Regions from separate parts of the Homo sapiens genome. Here region 1 is linked to region 2. Evidence: fine-mapped expression QTL. A gene starts in region 2. The other region holds a variant in brackets. All regions are shown on one strand. Distances are from middle to middle. Region 1 overlaps CCDC158 (coiled-coil domain containing 158). Region 2 holds the start of CCDC158 (coiled-coil domain containing 158).

The links.
Region 1: its variant is fine-mapped to the expression of CCDC158 in atrial appendage (GTEx, PIP above 0.99). The same link has a PIP of 0.9 or more in prefrontal cortex.

The regions. Positions count from the first base shown.
Region 1 is chr4:76,378,529-76,383,907 of GRCh38, reverse strand. It overlaps CCDC158 (coiled-coil domain containing 158), which reads left to right. Exons shown (of 25, transcript NM_001394954.1): 7 at 170-246; 8 at 1,188-1,298; 9 at 4,504-4,618. Among named protein-coding and RNA genes, the nearest start is that of CCDC158, 40 kb to the left of the region's middle. RefSeq lists an enhancer at 2,830-3,334. The variant C/A (reference allele first, on the strand shown) is at 3,424.
Region 2 is chr4:76,418,910-76,424,288 of GRCh38, reverse strand. It overlaps CCDC158 (coiled-coil domain containing 158), which reads left to right and starts at 3,148. Exons shown (of 25, transcript NM_001394954.1): 1 at 3,148-3,324.

The DNA.
Region 1 (5,379 bases), 40 kb after region 2:
ATGAGAGTATAGACAAAGTAAAAGATCTAATAAAATATGGGGATAGAATGTATCTGATTTTAGTATTATTTTTACTTGCATTTAAAGCATTCCTTTAGTTGAAAATCTCCAGATTTTCCAAGCCTTATATTTACCAGTAACTAAATCAGTGTCTCTTTTTAAAAACCAGGTAGAGGATCAACTTGAAGCACTGAAATCTGAATCACAGAACAAAATAGAACTACTTCTGCAACAACACCAAGATAGGTAGGTTTCTGACTGAGGTATGGAAAAGCCTAGCGAAACTAAACCACAGTTTTACAGTGTTTCGGCCACAATTCCAAAATCTAAACAGCTCTGAAACACATAAGTTTTTTTATAGGTTTATAGGAAACTCATGTTAACATTTTGTTTTCCTGACCCTGGTTATAAAATCGTAAGGAAGATGTCATTTGAGATGATTACAATAGGAGTATTGCTGTAGGAGAGAGAGAGAGAGAGATTAAGCTCAGCTCCCAATACAAGGCCAAATGGGGATTTATAGCCAGGGGGCATGGTGAGGGGGTCTGTGGATGGAAAATTACTGAGAAAAGGCATCAAGAGTAGGGGGATTCTTGCTAAATGCAGGCCAAGGGCTTAGATATCAAAGGCAGGGGATGAAGAACTTGATCAGATATCGAGGGTGGGAGGACTAAACTGACTTGGCAAGATTCTTGCTAGGTCTGGGCTAGGCAGGCCAAAGGTTGAGGCATAGTTGAAAAGAGGCCTCAGAAGAGTCTGACTAAAGTTTGGTGAAGGAGAGAGTTTTTGTCACTCATTTGTTGGAAAAACCTGACCAGAGCTAATGTAAACCTTTCCATAGTCTACAATTTAGTGTGAATACTTATAAATTATTGCATTCATGATATGTTTCGTTAATGGGACACTTCCCTAGATCTCATTGGGGGTGTCATATAATATTTACTACTTGCAATTTATTACCATTGTAAAATAAAAAAAAATTCTGAATTCCAAAACTATCTGACTCCCAAAAGATTTGGATAAAGGGTTTTGGACTTGTTGTAGACACTTGTTATTAAAAGAGTAGCATATACAAAAGCAAAGCAAAATACTAAATTTGAGAGTATTGAAAATCATTAATTTTTAAAATAATTCATAGTCAGGAAAATCTTCTGTATCAAATGACAATCACCACATTCTTTTTATAGGATTGAGCAGTTAATAAGTGAACATGAAGTTGAAATAACAGGACTTACTGAGAAAGCTAGCAGTGCTCGAAGCCAAGCCAATAGTATCCAGAGTCAAATGGAAATCATTCAGTATGTGGTTTGAAACTGTTAGTCATTCATCTTCATTTTAAAGATATTATTCTCATTAACTTTCTGTTCTATAATCTTTTAGAACTTGCTTAGTAAGATTTCATAAGAAAGTGAAACATTTTTCTAACATTTAAATGAACAGGAAGTATTATGTAACATAGGTACTGTTATCTGACCATATAAGAAGTATTTTTGCAAGTATTTGGGGCTCCTGGGATTGGCTGTTTTAAGTATTCATATTTGTCCATTCTTACACTGCTATAAAGAACTAACCAAGACTGGGTAATTTATGAAGAAAAGAGATTTAATTGACTCCTAGTTCCACAGGCTTAACAGGAGTCGTGAGTGGGAGGCCTCAGGAAACTTACAATTATGACAGAAAACAAAGGGGAAGCAAGCACATCATACCATGGCAAAGCAAGAGAGAGAGAGAATGGGGATGTGCCACACTTTTAAATCATCAGATCTCATGAGAACTCACTCGCTATCACGGGAAAAGCATGGGGGAAATCTGTCCCCATGATCCAGTTACCTCCCACAAGGCCCCTCCCCTGACACATGGTGATTACAATTCAGATTTGTAATATCCCAAATATCATGTCTTTCTCACATTTTAAAATACAATTATTGGCTGGGCATGGTGGCTTACGCCTATATTCCCAGCACTTTGGGAGGCTGAGGCGGGCAGATCACGAGGTCAGGAGATCGAGAGCATCCTGGCTAACACGGTGAAACCCTGTCTCCACTAAAAATACAAAAAATTAGCTGGGCATGGTGGTGGGCACCTGTAGTCCCAGCTACTCAGGAGGCTGAGGCAGGAGAATGGCATGAACCCGGGAGGCAGAGCTTGCAGTGAGCCAAGATCACGCCACTGCACTCCAACCTGGGCGACAGAGCAAGACTCCATCTCAAAAATAAAAAAAATATAATTATCCCTTCTCAACAGTCCCCTAGTCTTAACTCATTTAAGCATTAACTCAGAAATTCAGTCCAAAGTCTCATCTGAGACAAAATAAGTCCGTTCCACCTATAAGCCTGTAAAATAAAAAACAAGTTTGTTATTTCCAAGATACAACTGGGTTACAGGCATTGGGTAAATGCTCCTATTCCAAATGGGAAAAATAGGCCAAAACAAAGGGGCTGCAGGCCCCATGCAAGTCCAAAATCCAGCTGTGCAGTCATTAAATCTTAAAGCTCTGAAATAATCTCCTTTGACTCCATGTCTCACTTCCAGGGCACACTGATGCAAGGCAGGGCTCCCAAGGCGTTGGGCAGCTCTGCCCTTGTTGCTCTGCATTGTACAGCCTCCGCAGCTGCTTTCACAGGCTACACTGAGTGCCTGTAGTTTTTCCACGTGCACAGTGCAAGCTGCCTGTAGATCTACCATTCTGGGGTCTGGAGGGTAGTGGCCCTCTTCTCACAGCTCCACTAAGCAGTGCCCCAGTGGGGACTCTGTGTGGGGGTTCCAACCCCACATTTCCCCTCCACATTACCCTAGTAGAGGTTCCCCATGAGGGCTCTACTCCTACAGCAGATGTCTGCCTGGACATCCAGGCATTTCCATACATGCTATGAAATCTAGGCAGAGGTTTCCAAACCTCAACTCTTGCTTTCTGTACACCTCCAGGCTCAACACCACATGGAAGCTGCCTAGTCTTGGGGCTTGCACCCTTTGAAGCAACAGCCCGAGCTGTACCTTGGCCCATTTTAGCCATGGCTGGAGCTGGAGCAGCTGGGACACAGGGTGCCATGTACCGAGGACGCACAGAGCGATAGAGAGGGCCCTGGCTTACAAAACCATTTCTTCCTCCTAAGTCACAAGGCCTGTGTTGGAAGGGGCTGCCTAAAGATCTCTGACATGCCCCGGAGACATTTTCCCCATTGTCTTGCACCTCTTCTTATGCAAATTTCTGCAGCCGGCAGCTTGAATTTCTCCCCAGGAAATGGGTTTTTCTTTTCTACCACATGGTCAGGCTGCAAATTTTCCAAACTTTTACACTGTGCTTCCCTTTTAAATAGAAGTTGCAATTTCACACCATCTCTTTGTAAATATATATGACTGTATGCTTTCAGAAACAGTCAGGTGACATCTTGAATGCTTTGCTGCTTAGAAATTTCTTCTGCC[C/A]GACACCCTGAATCATCTCTGTCTAGATCAAAGTTCCACAGATCTTTAGGGCAGGGGCAAAATGCTACCAGTCTCTTTGCTAAAGCATAGTGAGAGTGATCTTTACTCCAGTTCCCAAGAAGTTCCTCATCTCCATCTGAGACCACCTCAGCCTGGACTCTTTGTCCATATCACTATCAGCATTTTGGTCACAACCATTCAACAAGTCTCTAGGAAGTTCCAGACTTTCCCTCGTCTTTCTGTCTTCTGATCCCTCCAAACTGTTCCAACCTCTGCCTGTTACCTAGTTCCAAATTCACTTTCACATTTTCAGATATCTTTATAGCAGTGCCCCACTCTCCTGGTACCAGTTTTCTGTATTAATCCATTCTTACACTACTATAAAGAACTATCCAAGACTGGGTAATTTATAAAGAAAAGAAGTTTAGTTGACTCACAGTTCCACAGGCTTAACAAATCATGACTAGGAGGCCTCAGGAAACTTACAATCATGGGGAAAGCAAACACATCTTACCATGGCGGAGCAGGAAAGGGGGGAAGTGCCATACTTTTAAACCATCAGATGTTGTGAGAACTCACTATCATGAGAACAGTATGGGGGAAATCTGCCCCCACAGTCCAATCACCTCCCACCAGGTCCCTCCCCTGACATGTGGGGATTACAATTTGACATGAGATTTGGGTGGGGACACAGAGCCAAACCGTGTGTGTGTGTGTGTGTGTGTGTGTGTGTGTGTGTGTAATATATATGAATATATATAAGTAAAATGTATGCATATGTGTAGAAATAATTTTATTTGAGTTGTATGTTAAAACTTTTTATATGGACATTTTCTATCATATACAAAAGTAGAGAGAAAATAGTGTAATGCACTCCCATACAGCTGTCACCCAGCTTCAGCAGTTTACAATATATTTGAGGTGAAACTTTTGAGAGTCAGTTTTGGAAAATAAAAGACTATTGGCTTAATAATGCCATATAAAATAACTAGTGGTAGTGTCAAAAAGCTAGAATACTCAGGTGTTACTCTTATTCTTAGTTTGCTATTTGCACTTATTCCCCTTCTAAACTCTTCTTAGAGAGCAAGCAAGAAACCAAAACTCTATGTATATGCGTCAGCTCAGCGATCTGGAATCTACTGTTTCTCAGCTACGTTCTGAATTAAGGGAAGCCAAAAGGATGTATGAAGACAAGGTGAGTTTAGGTTTTGCTGGTCTGTTTCTAGAGACTTTAATATCCAGAATCAATATTATATTAGTAATAGTTTATTTGAAAATAAGGAATCAAAGTAATTTCAAATTAAAAGCAGTTTATAAGCTGGAGTAAGAGCATGCTAAATTATATTTTAAACTATTTATAAACTATTTTTATTTAAATTGTGTACTCTGATTCATTCTTAGCAAAATTTTTTGCATAGTTCAAGTGAGTTTCTAAAAAATGCATTAAAAATGAGACCATCTTAATTATTTTTACTTAGCTAAACTTTAGCAAATACTTCCATACCAGCCAGATCCCCCTGCTACTCAATATTTTTGGGGCCTACCTCCTCTCTTACTTCAACTCCTAACTCCTAATCATTGTGAAGCTACCAAACTGAATTAATGTTAAGATTAATTAAATGAATTAATTACATAAAAATTAATTAGGAGGATAAGTCATCTCTCATCATCATGTAATTCCTTTTAAAACCACATTAATATTTGATATTCTGTTTTTTTCTTTCACTTTCCATAGCTAAAGAGAAGCTATTCAGTATCATTGTCATCTGTTTATCCAGAGTTTAGACTTTTGTTCATTTCAACCATTTGTAAAACAGTAAGACCCTAAAAAACAAACAAGGAGCTGCCATTAAGAGGAGTGGTGGTCTTCATTCCCTGTGAGAAGGGTGATCACCCAAGGCGGCTTGCCTGGGACAGTCTCGGTTTACACCCGCTAGCCCAGTGTCCTGTTTTATG
Region 2 (5,379 bases):
GATCATTCTTGGGTGTTTCTCGCAGAGGGGGATTTGGCAGGGTCATCGGACAATAGTGGAGGGAAGGTCAGCAGATAACCAAGTGAACAAAGAAACAAGTGAACAAAGGTCTCTGGCTTTCCTAGGCAGAGGACCCTGCGGCCTTCCGCAGTGTTTGTGTCCCTGGGTACTTGAGATTAGGGAGTGGTGGTGACTCTTAACGAGCATGCTGCCTTCAAGCATCTGTTTAACAAAGCACATCTTGCACCGCCCTTAATCCATTTAACCCTGAGTGGACACAGCACATGTTTCAGAGAGCACAGGTTTGGGGGTAAGGTCACAGTTCAACAGGATCCCAAGGCAGAAGAATTTTTCTTAGTACAGAACAAAATGAAAAGTCTCCCATGTCTACTTCTTTCCACACAGACACGGCAACCATCCGATTTCTCAATCTTTTCCCCACCTTTCCCCCCTTTCTATTCCACAAAACCACCATTGTCATCATGGCCCGTTCTCAATGAGCTGTTGGGTACACCTCCCAGACGGGGTGGTGGCCAGGCAGAGGGGCTCCTCACTTCCCAGTAGGGGCGGCCGGGCAGAGGCGCCCCTCACCTCCCGGATGGGGTGGCTGGCCGGGCGGGGGGCTGACCCCCCCACCTCCCTCCCGGATGGGGCGGCTGGCCGGGCAGAGGGGCTGACCCCCACCTCCCTCCCGGACGGGGTGGCTGCCGGGCGGAGACGCTCCTCACTTCCCAGACGGGGTGGCTGCCGGGCGGAGGGGCTCCTCACTTCTCAGATGGGGCGGCTGCCAGGCGGAGGGGCTCCTCACTTCTCAGACGGGACAGTTGCCAGGCAGAGGGTCTCCTCACTTCTCAGACGGGGCAGCTGGGCAGAGATGCTCCTCACCTCCCAGACGGGGTCGCGGCCGGGCAGAGGCGCTCCTCACACCGCAGACGGGGCGGCGGGGCAAAGGCGCTCCCCACATCTCAGACGATGAGCGGCCGGGCAGAGACGCTCCTCGCTTCCTAGATGGGATGGCGGCCGGGAAGAGGCACTCCTCACTTTCCAGACTGGGCAGCCAGGCAGAGGGGCTCCTCACATCCCAGAAGATAGGCGGCCAGGCAGAGACGCTCCTCACTTCCCAGACGGGGTGGCGGCCGGGCAGAGGCAGCACTCTCCGCACTTTGGGAGGCCAAGGCAGGCGGCTGGGAGGTGGAGGTTGTAGCGAGCCGAGATCACGCCACTGCACTCCAGCCTGGGCACCATTGAGCACTGAGTGAACCAGACACCGTCTGCAATCCCGGCACCTCCGGAGGCCGAGGCTGGCGGATCACTCGCGGTTAGGAGCTGGAGACCAGCCCGGCCAGCACAGCGAAACCCCGTCTCCACCAGAAAAATACGAAAACCAGTCAGGCGTGGCGGCGCGCGCCTGCAATGGCAGGCACTCCGCAGGCTGAGGCAGGAGAATCAGGCAGGGAGGTTGCAGAGAGCCGACATGGCAGCAGTACAGTCCAGCTTCGGCTGGGCATCAGAGGGAGACCGTGGAAAGAGAGGGAGAGGGAGACCTTGGAGAGGGAAAAGGAGGGGGAGGGGGAGGGGGAGAGGGAGAGGGAGAGGGCCCCAGCTTTATTGTCACAACCTACACATAGCATGTTGTAGGTGCCCTATAAATATGGATGGAATGAATGAATGAATGGAAAAGGACTTTGGATCCCTTTCTTGATCTTTTAATTCTTTATTTAAAAAGCTAAGAAGCTGTTTTTAATACAATATTTAAAAAATGTTGTAAAACCGCAGGACACTTCAAAATGTGATGAATTTTATAGTAAAATCAGGGGCACATAACTTTTCGTACATATATGTGGGTGTAGATAATTTCATGCTACACTAATTAACACACCTTTTAATTAAAGACGTTGAAAAGAAAAAAACCTTTTTGTGTGTGTCCAGGGTACAAGCACAAAATGAGACACCAATGGAAACCATGTATTAGGTATGGAAAATTTTTATGTCATTGAACACTCATGTTTTGATAGAAAAAAGAAAAAATTAGAAATTGCTTTTTGTCCAACCACAAGACCTAAATTATTTACCTTTCTATGTAATACTTATGGTTTCACTTCCTGTTAAAAATGCTCGATTCTATAGCTAATCCTAGATCTCTATAAGCCAATAAATGGATTAACTACAAAGATATGATAAACAATCTTTAATGGCATTTAATCTATTTTTATTAAAATTTGTAGCTACATTATTTAATGTAAGACTTACTAATATTTCTAATCAACTTATACATAAAAAGTTATTTGCTGTAGGTGTCTGCACAATGTGATTGCTAGCAGAATTAAATGCCTCAGGCTGCATCTATCAGACACTGGCCTTTCTGGATGCGTTCCATTTGATCGATAATTTGGGCAGCAAAATCTGATAAATTCTATATTAGAGATAATGACAGAGGGTAACTGTAGCACAGCGGAGGGAACAAGTCTCCAGAGGCAGAAGGGTCAGCTATGCCGAGAACACGTTTGAACTTGAACATTCGGGGACAGAGAAAACAGAGCTGCAAAATGTGAATTCTGTTAACTTGAAATGGTCAAATGGGAATGCCAGGAGTGGGAATGGGAGGGGGGGGTGAGGTGGGGCCGGGTGGGGGTGTCAGAGTAGGAGGCCCGGCGGGCAACTCCAGATTGGGCTTGACTCTTTGGCAGGTAAGAGCTCAGACTGGTGCGGGTCAGTGAGTTATCTGGGAAGACCACGGTGGGGACAGCTACGAGAGTGGCCCGAGGCGCTCGGGTGGGGGCAAGAGTAGGGCCGGAGACCAGTTAGGAGGCTGTGGGAGAAGCGGCAGAGGGCGCCGGGTGCAGGTCCGAACCCAGGGTAGTTTCTGGGGCAGGGCTCCAGGATTTGACTCCGGGCTGGGTACACCCCCACTCCTTAGGGCGCCCGGGCGGTGGTGGGGACTTCGACGCTCGGATGCCCCAGCGACGGCGTCCGGCGGGCGGAGTCGCAGGCGCGGGAGGGGTCCCCGCCGGGCAGCTGCCGAGCACCCCCCTCCTCCCCTCCCCCAACTACGAAGCCTCGCAGAGCGTCCTAACCGTCACCCACGCGGCTCGCGCGGACTGGGCAGCGCCCCGAGCGCCACAGCCGCGAGGAGTGACGGGCGCGGGCAGCTTCCGGCGCCGCAGCCGAGGAGGAGGAGCCGCCCCGCAGCCTCCGCGGGGCCTAGGGGCGAAGAGTGGGGAGCCGCCCCGTCCCAGCCGCCAGGTCGACGTAGGTGGGGCCGCTGCGCCCGCCGGCGCCCCGCGGAGATGTGGCCGGTGTCTTAGGATTAGGTGTTGGTTGCAGGTACAAGCGGGGCGCGGCCCGGGAGACGAGGATGGTGGGGTGGGAGTGGGGTTCTTCTGAGGACCCGGAGCGACTCGTGTTCATTTCTGGAATCTTCCGGTGCCTCGTGTTTGTTCTGCACATGGAAGATGCCCAATAAATTGTTTCTTTACTGGAATGAGCTGCTGTTGTTTTAGGGGATTGCAAGACCCCTGGGGACGGTGGCGCTGAAACCTGGACCTTGAAGAACACAGGGGCCTGCGCAAACTGATTTGATTTGTGGGGAAGAGAATCACCGAGTAACCTGCCCCAACGTGACTGCTGACTCTGTGTCTACCGCGCTGCCGCGAACAGGGGGAGGAGATGGGGAAGACTTGGTGGTAGAGAGGACAGCCTCGCATCCAAGACGGAATGGTGTTAAATGCCGGCGCAAGGGCCCTTTCAGCTTGAGCCCTGTCTTTAAACCACATGTGGGGGTCAGAGCTTTCCCTCATTATCAGCATCAATCAGCAACACAATGAGTTCTGGAAAGTCTCCATCCTTTTCCACAGCACTCTGCTCCAGGCCCCACTCAGGCTGCTCCAGGTTTTGTTTGTGCCTCATGCTGAACTCCAACGTCAGGGGAAAGTAGAAGTGAGGTCGGCTGTTGCCCAGGTTTTTTGACTGGCAACCAGTTCTTGCTGCTTCTCTCAGCAGGAGATTAAGGCGTTGTGGCCGGGTATGGCGGGGGCGTGTGGGGAAAGGACCAGGGCTTCCACATATCCCAGAGACATGCTAGGTAGGACTGTTTCTCTGTGCGGAAGCTCATCAGGTAAGGGTGCAGGAGTGCTGAGAGAGATGTGGTCCTCCTATCTCTGTACTGCGCTCATTGCTTTTAATCTTAGTGCGGTTATCTTACTTGTGTTGTGGGTGAAATGGTTTCCATGCCATAGAGTTAATATTATACTCCCAAAACAAATTGAGGACAGCAATTTATTTGTATGTATGCAAAGCCCTTACTGTTGTTGTGCATTTACAATGAGGACTTAGTTTTATCTAGTATGTTATGAGTGAGCCACTTTAGACCTCCACCATTTATTAAACAGGGCCTCTTGTGATCCACCCGTCCCCCAGCTAGATGGCCCCAAATTATATGGTAGGCTGAGCAGTGGCCACTCAAATATGTCAGGTCCTAATCCCTGAAACCTGTAAATGTTACCTTATAAGGGAAAAGTGCCTTTGCATACGTGATTAAGTAGCTTGAAATGGAGAGATTATCGTGAATTATCTAGGTGGGTCCTAAATGCAAACGCAAAGGTCCTAAGAGAGAGAGAGAAGCAGATTTGATATAGGCCGAAGAGAAGGCAATGTGACCACAGAGGCAGATATTGGAGTGATGTGGCCACAAGTCACCAAATGCCTGGCAACCAGCAGAGCTAGAAGAGGCAAGGAACTGATTCTCTTGCAGAGCCTCCAGAGGGAGGGAGGGAGCCCTGCCAACACCATGCTTTCTTCCCCATGAGACTGATTTTGGATTCCTGGCCTCCAGAATTATGAAAGAATAAGTTGCTATTGTTTTAAGCTACCGAGTTTTGATAATTTGTTATGGAAACTGTAGGGAACTAATACATATGAGCGTGCTCATAAATCACATACATGCTGTACTGATGAATAGTTTACAGGTCTTCAGCTGGGGCAATAGTGGGGTACAGTAGTGGAGATCACTGTATATTTATCTGAATCCTGTAAATCCTAAAGAAAGGATTTGAATAGGGAATTTGGTAAGAAAAGAAATTTAAGTGGTGCATATGAAGGAGGTAGTCTGGCATTTAAAGCAATTTTTTAAGAGTATTCCTATTAATATATCACTATTTGCTCTGGCTAAAAAGAATAAAGGTAAAAAGTGGCAAAGGCTTTGTCCTTACCTTAGCTGAATCATTATTGATTATCCATTGTGTGTATATCAAGTAAGAGTTGCAGACACCTGGGGATTGAGGTCCAGGCCTGGGGAAAAGAGGGAATGCAGAAGTGCTTCCATGTATTAAAATATGGCTAAAAGCAACCGCTAGTCATCTGGAATTAAGATACTTTGGAGTT